Linked DNA regions of Homo sapiens: region 2 is reported to be linked to region 1. Evidence: microRNA targets listed by miRTarBase, many of them from high-throughput screens and not tested one by one. Region 1 holds a microRNA gene; the other region holds the end of a gene's coding sequence.
Evidence for each region. Region 1 holds the annotated microRNA hsa-miR-4697-5p (AGGGGGCGCAGUCACUGACGUG, at 3,208-3,229, shown strand). A microRNA usually pairs through its seed, bases 2 to 8, with sites in the 3' UTR of a target mRNA and lowers its output. Matches are read on the target gene's strand: a 7mer-m8 pairs with bases 2 to 8, a 7mer-A1 pairs with bases 2 to 7 and ends in A, and an 8mer does both.

Region 2: miRTarBase lists GNB2 as a target of hsa-miR-4697-5p. Seed matches in the 3' UTR shown: 7mer-A1 at 742-748.

What each region holds. Positions count from the first base shown.
Region 1 is chr11:133,896,708-133,901,779 of GRCh38, reverse strand. MIR4697 (microRNA 4697) reads left to right here and starts at 3,199; the gene lies at 3,199-3,276. IGSF9B (immunoglobulin superfamily member 9B) reads left to right here. Exons shown (of 20, transcript NM_001277285.4): 20 at 1-5,072.
Region 2 is chr7:100,678,214-100,683,285 of GRCh38, forward strand. GNB2 (G protein subunit beta 2) reads left to right here. Exons shown (of 10, transcript NM_005273.4): 8 at 1-86; 9 at 185-401; 10 at 482-956. The coding sequence ends at 588. It overlaps GIGYF1 (GRB10 interacting GYF protein 1), which reads right to left. Exons shown (of 27, transcript NM_001375765.1): 22 at 4,799-5,017; 23 at 4,377-4,564; 24 at 4,109-4,269; 25 at 3,859-4,022; 26 at 3,651-3,780; 27 at 1,294-3,558. The coding sequence ends at 3,506. Among named protein-coding and RNA genes, the nearest start is that of GNB2, 7.0 kb to the left of the region's middle. RefSeq lists an enhancer at 1,015-1,144.

The DNA.
Region 1 (5,072 bases):
TGTACAGACATGCTGATTTGCCTGCGTAGTGTCAGGCCCAGGAGACCCTCCTTTGTTTGGCTCTTTTGCTAGACAACTTCTGTTTGGGTAGGAGGGTCAAATTAGTAATGCACCATCTTTAATGTATTTTTTATGGAGACTGTACATAAAATTATATAAATCTACAGAATTGGTTCTATTTTAAGGAGAGAGGGGAATGTATGTGGGAGGCAAGGATCAGATGCAATCGTGGAGACTGGGAGCTTCGGGCGAGTGGCACTCGGGTGTGGGGAGCGGGAGGGCAAGAGATGAGTGCCGGGCAAGATGGGCAGGGGCCCGTGCCCTCTGCACACATATATAAATATAAAGAACACCTAGATAAAGTCTATATATCTCTATATCTATATGAAGTCATAGTTTGCTTTATTTTTGTACCTGTGCTTAGAGATGTTTTGAGCAGTGCTACCTTCCCAGGCAGTCTGGGATACTAGCTCATGCCTTGACGCCACCTCCTTCCCTGCTCTTCCTTTGGTATTCTCTCTGTTCAGAGTTGCTTGGGTCTTTCTGATGGAAATGTGTATATATGAAAAGTTTGTAAAATAACAAAACAAATAACCCACCTGCAGGAAGGACAAGTGAGCTGAAGGTTGTGTGGAGCTGCAGGATCTGATAGCCCTAAAGAACCAGGACCAATGTGTCTCTTGCCACTTGGGAGGGATGTTGACTTGAACTTCTTTGCAGAGGGGCTTAACAGGGCAAGGCTGAGGAGATGAAAACTGTGACTCCATCCCCACGTGGCTGTGGAAAGGTAACCAGTTCCTCAGAGAAAACCTGGCTTCACAGCATTAGAAAGGGGGTGGTTGAGACTACCTAGGGACCTACGGTGACACCTGTCTTGGTTTGTAGCACTGTAGCTCAGACAGCTCAGACCGCTCATAGAGGGCATGGCAATGGGAGAGTTTGTGAGGCTGGCTGCCTGGGCTTGGTCTTGGAGAACACATGGCCTGTTTAGTGTTGCTGCAGATTCTTAGAGCCAGTGTGAATGTGGTATGTAGTATAAATATGTCATCTATGTTTTTTTCAGTTATTTTTAATTGGAAATAAAGTGCCATTGCAAATAGGATGCTCCAATCCTGGGACACTGAGTGGAGGATGAGGAGGGAGAGATGAACTGTGGGCCGGCCTGGGAGAGGGGGTCTTAGTGGAACCTTCCTTCTGGCCTCCAGCCGGGGACTTACAAAACTGAACAATGTATTGGCAGAACTGGACCCACAATGGGAGATTCTGGGGAGCAGGAGTTCACTTGTATCTGAGCAGGAAGCAGTGTGCCCTGAAGAATACCTCTCTGAGCAAATTCCAGACCTCACACATATGCAAGGGCTCTGCCTTGCAGCCTCAGCAAGCGTCTCCTGGTGCTAGCTCCTTCCTGACTTGCCCGGAGCTCGGAGTGATGTATTTGAAGCTGGTGCTGGGCCAGATGGTGCAGGCAGTGAGGAGAGACTCAGGACTGCAACCTTTCGGCTCCTTATTCCTGCTCATCACTCAGAAAAGGGCAGTACTAACCCCTTTCCTAACCAAGACATGGCACTCCCTAAGAGCTCTTGTCTATAGAGTTTGGTCCTTAGAGGAAAGCAGATACCTTCAGCGTGAGAAGGGCTTGGTTGACAGTTTTGGGGTATTATGGGAAGAGTAGGTTGGGGTAAAGCTTGAGTCTAACTCTTGATCCTTACATGGACCTATGAGGCCCTGCCATTCAGTCAGGCACTGTCCTTGGGTCCTCAAATTAACTGCTGAGAACACTCCCCACTTTCCGAGGACGCTGATGGGAAATGGGCTCTGTCCATGCAGCTGGAAGGATCCAGTGCTGGTGCCACTGTCAGTGGCACCATCCTTGCCTTGAATGATCTTTCTTGCAGGCTCCTGCAGCTGAGTGTTTCTTGTAAGATTTTTCAGGGGGATTGGGCAAGAAGAAGAGGTGCAAATTCTGTTCCCTTCCTACCTTGAAGCCTTCCCAGACCACCACGGTCTCTGCACAAGGGAGGCTCCCATTACTGTTCTGTTGGCTTCTAGACCCACCATCCCCTCTCTTTCTGTGGACTCTGCCCGACTTCTGGCCACATGCAACCAGCAGAGTAAACTGCTCCAACACCTCGGGCATGTCCTAGGGCTTGCCCTCCCACCAGGGCCAGCCCAAGATTAGGTCCTCAGCAGCATCAAGGTCTGGGAGAGCCACTGGCCCACATGTCACCATTCTATTCCTCAGCCTCCAACAGGACTCTTCATTTTGGGGAGGGAAAGGGAAGATGGGGCCATAGCCCCTACCTTGAAATTGTACAGTGTGGAGGGGATGTTAGTGCCTACCTGTGACCTTTCTGCTCCACTGCTCAGCAAGATGAGGTAAGGTTGGGTGTCAGAGGGGACCTCCAGCTTCTCTGAAGAGCCAGCCCTTAAGGCACTTGGAGCAAAGGTCATTGAGATCAGCTTTATGTGGAGTAAGGAGGAGGCCTGGGAACCGCTTGTGGCATCAGTTGGGGCGACAGGTGGATGAGTGTGCTCTGATGGAGCTTTTACGGCCCACAGCCACTGCCAGGAGCCTGAGCTCTTCCCCATGCTTGGGACACGTTCCTTGGTCCCCACAGCAGAATGGACATTGAATTTTGGTGCTTTTCCCTTTGGTAGAAGGTGGAGGTATCTGAGGAGTTGTTTCTGTCTTGCTACCTCTGTCTACTATATAGAGCAAGAGTCGGGAATAGGGAGATGTGTGAGAATCACTCTCCCATGGATCAGTGTGGGCCCTGTCCCTCTTCCCCACTGTCACCAACCAGCAGCTTGGGGAAAAGGCTCTGTCGTGGATTTTTGCTGCCTGCTTCCCGCTTCCACTCTTCTTGGCGGTAGATGTTCATGGTGATCCACTTTGGGCGGTCTGAAAGTAGGAGGTGGGGGAAGAGGCAAGCCTGCACACACACTTCCTGTCCACAGGGGGTTGCCTGTGGCATTGGAGGGTGGAGTCTCAGAGTCCAGGGACTGGGAGGAAGGTACTTGATGGGATGGTCTTGATTCTGGAACTTTAGACTGAGGTGTTAGAAAGGGGAATTGTTGGCTAGGGGAGAAGAGCAGTTTAACGCTCCACTTGCTAAGTCGTCTGTATCAGTGTCAGAAGGTCTTGACCTCCCATTCAGATTTAATTTCCTAACTGCCAGGTGTGGGGCTGGGGATAGAGGGCCCAGAAGGGGGCGCAGTCACTGACGTGAAGGGACCACATCCCGCTTCATGTCAGTGACTCCTGCCCCTTGGTCTTCAGTGTTTTTCTCTTCCCCAGGAGGGACTTTGATCATGCAGGATAGAATTCTCCCATCGCACACCTGGGGGCAAGTTTTAGATGAGCTTCTTTCCTCCATTTCACCTGGTGGTCTGAGGACACACAGAGGGTGGGGGTGAGCAGGCAGTGTGGGTGGGGAGGGGCTACCTCCCCCAGACCCCTTACAAACTCTGTACCTCTCGGTGCGCGGCAGCCTCTTGCTGTAGTTCTTCTTTTCTGGATATGACTGTCAGTTTCGTCATGAGATTTCTTGCTCTCATTTCGAACTCTTTCTTTCTTCCACTTTCTTTGGGGGCGACCCCCGATCCATGCCAGGTCTTCCTGTGAAGACCGTTCCAACCTCGTTTCCATTTCTTGAATGTTGAGTATTACAACATCACTGCGCTAGGGTGCTTCATGGTGCTGTTCTCGAAGAGGCCAGTTGGGCTGAATCTCCTTCCTCCCACTGGCTCCTGATATCTTGCTGTATTTTGTCTTCTTTCTGATTTTTCCCTAGGGGTTTGGGGTGGGTGACTTAGGGGCGGCTTTTGTGTTCTCCCTCTCTCTCTCTTTCTTTTCTGTATGTATGTATGGACTGGTTAAAGTGAGTTTGGGCAGCTGACTTTATGGTATGGGTTGGCTGACTTTTGTTCAACATTAAAGACAAACCAACAAATTGTACAGCTGCACACAGAACACCTTTGAGTGTGAACTTGAATGGCAACTAGAGGCTTACTTTTTGAACTTCAGGTATGTAACTCAAAAGTAAATAAAACCACTATTTTTTCAGTAAGCTTTTTTTTCTTCTAAAAGATGACTTAGAAATCAAACTATAAGAACATGAAATCGGTGCTGTACCAAAGCCTTATATGAACATATTCTACACTCTGTATAACCTGTCTGTGAGGAGCTCCCTGCTCTATCACCCTCTTCTCAAAAGCCTGGGAATGCCAGCGCGTGCCAAGCCTGGGGCTGGGTCTTGGGGACCTGTGGGCCAAGGGCACCCTGGGAAGTAAAAGATGACGGTGAGGATGGGACACCCTTCTGCTGCCTGAGCAGACTGCAAGGAAACCAGATGTGTGTGTGTGCGCGCACCTGCATATATATGTGTGCATACCTGTGCGTGTGTGTGCGTGTGCGTGTGTGCACGCAAGAGAGTGAGAGCGGGAGAGAGCTCACAGGTGCACAGTGTCATGGTGAATGTACTAAGTACGAGCTTGAAGGGAGGCCCAGGTTGGCTCTGGGAGTGGGGCGGTGTGGGAATGAAGGGGGGATGCTCTCTCCCCTGTTTTCTGCCTCCTTCCCTTCTCCGTCAGGGAAGGGAGGTGTATTGGAAACAGCTACACTCTCAATCAGGTGCTTTTTTTCCCTCAAAATCTCCAAACTCAAAGCATTTATAAGGGGCCCTTCCAATGGGCAGGCACCCCCAGCCACCAAATCACAGACTTCCAAGAGTAGGAGGAACTGTCTCCTCCCGAACCCTTCCTTGCTTTCCTGGGGAAGAGGGTTCTTCCTGCAGGGACCCTGGGCATCCTGCTGCTGGGCCTGGGCCTATAGACTGCCCTGCCCCTTCTTCCCAAACACTGAGAAGACCCCGCTGGAGATGACCCCAAAGCCACGCCTGCTCTACGGCCCTAAGCAATAGACGCCTGCCCTGGCTGCTGATGATGGTGATCCCTTTGTCCTTTGACTTGGCAGTCAAAAATGGAGTGACACCCCAGACTCAGTCAGGAAGAGAACCTGCAGCCTGCCTCAGCTCAGGCTACCACGCCAGGCTCCACTCGCTGGTATTTCC
Region 2 (5,072 bases), not on the chromosome of region 1:
ATGCCTCTATCAAGCTGTGGGACGTGCGGGATTCCATGTGCCGACAGACCTTCATCGGCCATGAATCCGACATCAATGCAGTGGCTGTGAGTTTTGGGGCGAGCTAGGCCAGGCCCTCCCCACCAGGCTCCCGGCCCTGCTCCTCACCCTCACCCTCACCCCATCTGGGTCCCGTGTCCTGCAGTTCTTCCCCAACGGCTACGCCTTCACCACCGGCTCTGACGACGCCACGTGCCGCCTCTTCGACCTGCGGGCCGATCAGGAGCTCCTCATGTACTCCCATGACAACATCATCTGTGGCATCACCTCTGTTGCCTTCTCGCGCAGCGGACGGCTGCTGCTCGCTGGCTACGACGACTTCAACTGCAACATCTGGGATGCCATGAAGGGCGACCGTGCAGGTGACAGCTGGGGCCCAGGCTGGGTGGGCAGGGACCTGGAGCCCAGGCCCAATGGGTTCTGACTTCTCTCTTCTTCACAGGAGTCCTCGCTGGCCACGACAACCGCGTGAGCTGCCTCGGGGTCACCGACGATGGCATGGCTGTGGCCACGGGCTCCTGGGACTCCTTCCTCAAGATCTGGAACTAATGGCCCCACCCCCACTGGGCCCAGGCCAGGAGGGGCCCTGCCCATGCCCACACTACAGGCCAGGGCTGCGGGGCTGGCGCAATCCCAGCCCCCTTCCCCGGGCCACGGGGCCTTGGGTCCCTGCCCTCCCACCCAGGTTTGGTTCCTCCCGGGGCCCCCACTGTGGAGATAAGAAGGGGATGGAATGGGGGAAGAGGAGGAGCAGGAGGCCCTCATCCTTCTGCTGCCCTGGGGTTGGGGCCTCACCCCTCTGGAGGGCCGGAGGCAGGAGGTGGAAACCCCAGGGGCTGGCTTTTTTAAAACTGGTTTTATTTTAATTTTTATTATATTTTCAGTTTTTCCATAAAGGAGCCAATTCCAACTCTGTACCTGGTCTCTGCCCTTGCTGTGTTCTCCTTGTTTCTGGACTTTGTTGCCTGAGGGCTGCTGAGGGGGTGGATGGTGGGGAAGGTATGGGGCCTGCCAGGCAGCTGGGGCTGGGGGTGGGGTCCCCACTCTCCCTCAGAGCAAAGCTGAAGCCCCAGCCCAGAGCCTTCCGTCCAGAGGTTCTCGGATAAGCAGCCCTCACCATGGTTTCCCCCGTCAGGCTGCTGACCAGAGCCAGCCTGACCAGGCGGGCACTGCTCAGAGCTCCTAGTTCCCAGCTCTGTGCAGAGCCACTCATCCCCATGGCTCTCCCCAGATAACGAGCAGTGGAGGCGGAACGGGAGAACACACACCAAGTTTTATTGGGAGAAGGGAGTATTTACAGGAGCAGGTAAAAGAGAGGGAAGTCACACAGGGTGGAGAGGGGGCGGGGAGACTGTGGGTACAAGGCAGACAGGGAACACGGTGACCCCTGCACCCACCCCAACCCCAGGAAGGGCAGGGGAGCAGCGAGGGCCCAGGAAGACCGGGGCCGGGGAAGGACAGCAACAGGGTCTGAGTCCCTGGGCAGGGGGGCTCAGGGGCTTGTAAACATTGACCACTCTCAGAAGGGGATGGGGGTGGGAGAGGGCTCCCCCTATACTTCCTCACAGGGTTAAGGCCTCTCCAGGCTCATGGGCCCCCTAAGTCCAAAGTCTCTTTAGCTGGGGAGAAGAGACAGGAAGAGTGTCCCCCTTCCCCTGCATTGGCTGCGGCAGGGGTGGGGGGGTTACATTCAGTCACAACAGGAGTCTCCCCCACACCTGGCAAGAGGGAAGGGGAGCTGGGGGCCAGCAGCAGCAAACACTCCCCCCGGCCCGTCACCCCTTATTGCTTTAGAGAGAATATTGTCTTTTCAGGGACGCTAACACTGTGGGAACCAGGGAGAGGCAGGTGGGGGCCCCCCACCCCGAGGCCAGCTTGATCCCCCAACACTGACCTAGTTGCCACTTTGGTGCAAAAAAAAAAAAAAAAAAAAAAAAATCCAACAACAGAAAACCAAACACCATCTTTCTGGGACTAGATGGGGAAAGAAACGGGCCACTCCCCATGTCCCCAGGGCAGGAGGGAGAAATACATTCATGGAGGGAGGCAGTGGCGAAGCCTTGCCCTAATACTGCACTCTGAGCAATGAGGTCAATGGGAGGAGCTGGATGAGAAACCCAAAAGACAAAACTGTTACAAAACCCAAAATGGGCGGAGACGAACCCAAGTAGGGGACCGGGAATAAGAAGTGGGTGAGCAATAGAAGGGGCAGCCTCCTCTGACCCAGGAGCCGCACACTTCTCTTCACCCCAACCTTACCCAACGGTAAAAAGCGCATCATATCAGACCCGGAAGGCCACCTGCTCCTCTCCCATTTGGTCAGCGGAAGGGTCAGGTGCAGAGCTGGGTGGTCCACATCTTACGAGCTGGCTACAGGTTGGGGCCCCGGGCGGCAGCCCCTCTACTGCAACCCTAAGCCCAAAGCCACCCACTCCTTGCCTTTGAGGCCCCTCCTCCTGCCCCCTTCACTGGAGAAACAGCTCAGCCTTCTCTCTGCAGCCTCTGGAGCAATCATCCACCCCCGCCGCTCACAGGGGTGAGGCAGCTCAGGCAGGGGTGAGGCGGGGGCTTGTGGCCCAAAGAATACATTCACGTGGCAAGGCAGAGAGCTGGGGCTTTCAGGTTCAAACCCAGGGTGTCCCCCAAAATGGCAGCAGTGGGAGACGCCCCTCACCAGAACCAGAGTCCTGCTGCCCCACCCTGCCAGCCAGAGAGGTTGGCACGGCTTGGCCCCTCCCGTCTACTCGGCCAGCACAAGATGGCAGCCAGAGAGCTGGGGCCACTCGTCCAATTTGTGCAACTGTCCCCCAAAGCAGCGAAGCCAAGGGGCTACTTTGGCCCCACCCCGGACACCTCAGCCAGCCTCAGTGACAGGAGCTGCTCACAACAGGTCTGGCGGGTGGGGCTCAGACAGGCCTCCTGTGCAAACTGCTGGCCCCCAGCTTCCAGTTACCCCATGGCCCGCCTTCTGGGGGGTAAGTATGGCCTTGGGGGCCAGGCAGGACAGGTCCACGGGGCCTGTGTCCCCACTGCCCCAAAATAACAGTGTGTTTTTTCTTTCAGCCTCCTAACCATTTTTTTTTTCATTTTTCATCTTTTTTTCTTAAAAAAAAAAAAAAAACCAAAAAACAAAAACCTCTGTGGACCTTCCATTGTCACACCCACTATCCTCACAGCAGGAAGGGGTGTTTAGAGTCTAGTTTTTAACAATATTTTTGCCTCTCCTAATGTTTTCTTCAGTCGTTTAAAATTAAAAAAAAAAATAAAAAGAAAAACCCCCTCCCCCAGTCTGTAAAGTGCCTCGTGGTGGGTGAGTTAAGGTGCATCGTGTGTTTGTAACAAGTGCTGGGGACCCCGCCCCTGCCTCTTCCTGTGCTCTCTGCGGGGAGCCTGCAGGCTGGGACCCTCGGTCCACGCCGCTGTGGCTGCCCTGGCCTACAGCCCAGGGGCTGGGGGTCCGGGCTGGTCAGTAGTCATCCACGCTCTCGATCTCACCAGAAGATCCGTGCAGGGAGTACCCTGAAGCCGGGGAGAAGCTGCGTCTGAGCTCTCTCCTGGGCTCCTCCTGCCCTGTGCCAAGGAAGTCCCGCTCCTGCCCCAGCCCAGCTCACCCAGGATGCTGGGGTCTGAGTGCAGCATCAGTGCCCGCCTCTTGGCCTTGCTGCCCTCCCCGGGGCCGAGTTTGGTGCTGTGGTTGGCCTGGAAGGCCGTCTGCAGCGAGGCGCTGCTCAGCCATGCCTCCTAAGGCAGCGGAGAGGAGGGTGAAGGTCAGGAGGCACCAGGCAAGCCCACCCCAGCTGCTGGTGCCGGCTGCCTCACCTGCTGCTGCTGCCGCTGCTGGCTGGCTTTCTGCTTGGCCCTCCGCTCCAGGAATTGTTTGGCAAATTCTTTGGCTTCCAGCGTGTCCCCCAGGCAGGAACGGATATAATCGTGGACATCATAGGGGGATTCCACCTCCTTGAGGATCGCTACAGCCATGGGCACTGCAGGATGAGCGAAGGCTGTCAGGGCCCCCTGGCCGGGTCTGGAGACCCAGGTCCCGCCCACCTCCTGGGAGCCGCTCGCCCACCGTCCAGGCTGCCCGTGGCGCTCAGCGTGTGCAGCATCTGCTCGCACCACTGGGTGAAGCCGTCCTGGGGCCTGGGAATGCCCTGCAGCAGCTTCAGCAGCTTCTCTTCTTCCTCCGTCTTTTTGCGAATGGGCCGACCCGATAGGTGGCTGTATGAGTCACTGAAGGGGGAGGGTGAGTCAGGGTTGGAAATCAGCTGGCAGGGGTTGGGGGGGTCTGCCACCTTCCCCCTCAGGGCCATCCCGGAGCCTCCAGGTGCCACGCCCACCTGAGAGATGGGCTGCTCCGGCTGTTCTTCAGGCCGAGGCCACGGACCAGGCTCCCGCCGCTCTTGGGGGTGTCCTCCCAGAGCCCCAGGCCGCTGCTGCCGCCCCCACTCTTGTCTGGCCCGCCCCACAGTGGCCCAGCCTCAGACACCCACTGGTTCAGGGGGGCAGTGCCCAGGCCCCCAAGCTGCTACAGATGGCAGAAGATCAGAGTGGCTCAAACAAAGGCACCCCAGAAAAGCGGATGGGGAGGCTTGTTTAGGTGGCAAAGGGAGACAGGTGAGGTGAGGGCCACAAGAGCTGTTGCCATCACAGGAGAGGCTGGGACTGGGGCTGGGGCTGCACAAGTCTGGGTTCAGTATCCCCCTCCCTGTGCCACCCTGGAAACTGTAGGGGGAGCCCGGGAGGTTCCCGGCCTGCTCACCACTCGGTGGTTGGGGGCCTGGGCCCGAGCTGGCTCCCGAGGTGGGGGCTGTTTGTGCAGCTGCCGCTCGCCCTCCAGCTGCAACTCCAGGAGCGTCTTCATGGACAGCCCCTGCTTGGCCAGGCCAGCCCAGAGTGGGGGCGGGGAGCTGGGTGCGGGGGGCACAGGGACCGCCTGCTGCTGCTGTAGCAACTTCAGCAATAGCTCCTGCTGCCGCACCTAAGAGGGGGACATGGTGAGGGGACCTGGCGAGGGTTGTCCACCCAGCCAGCTG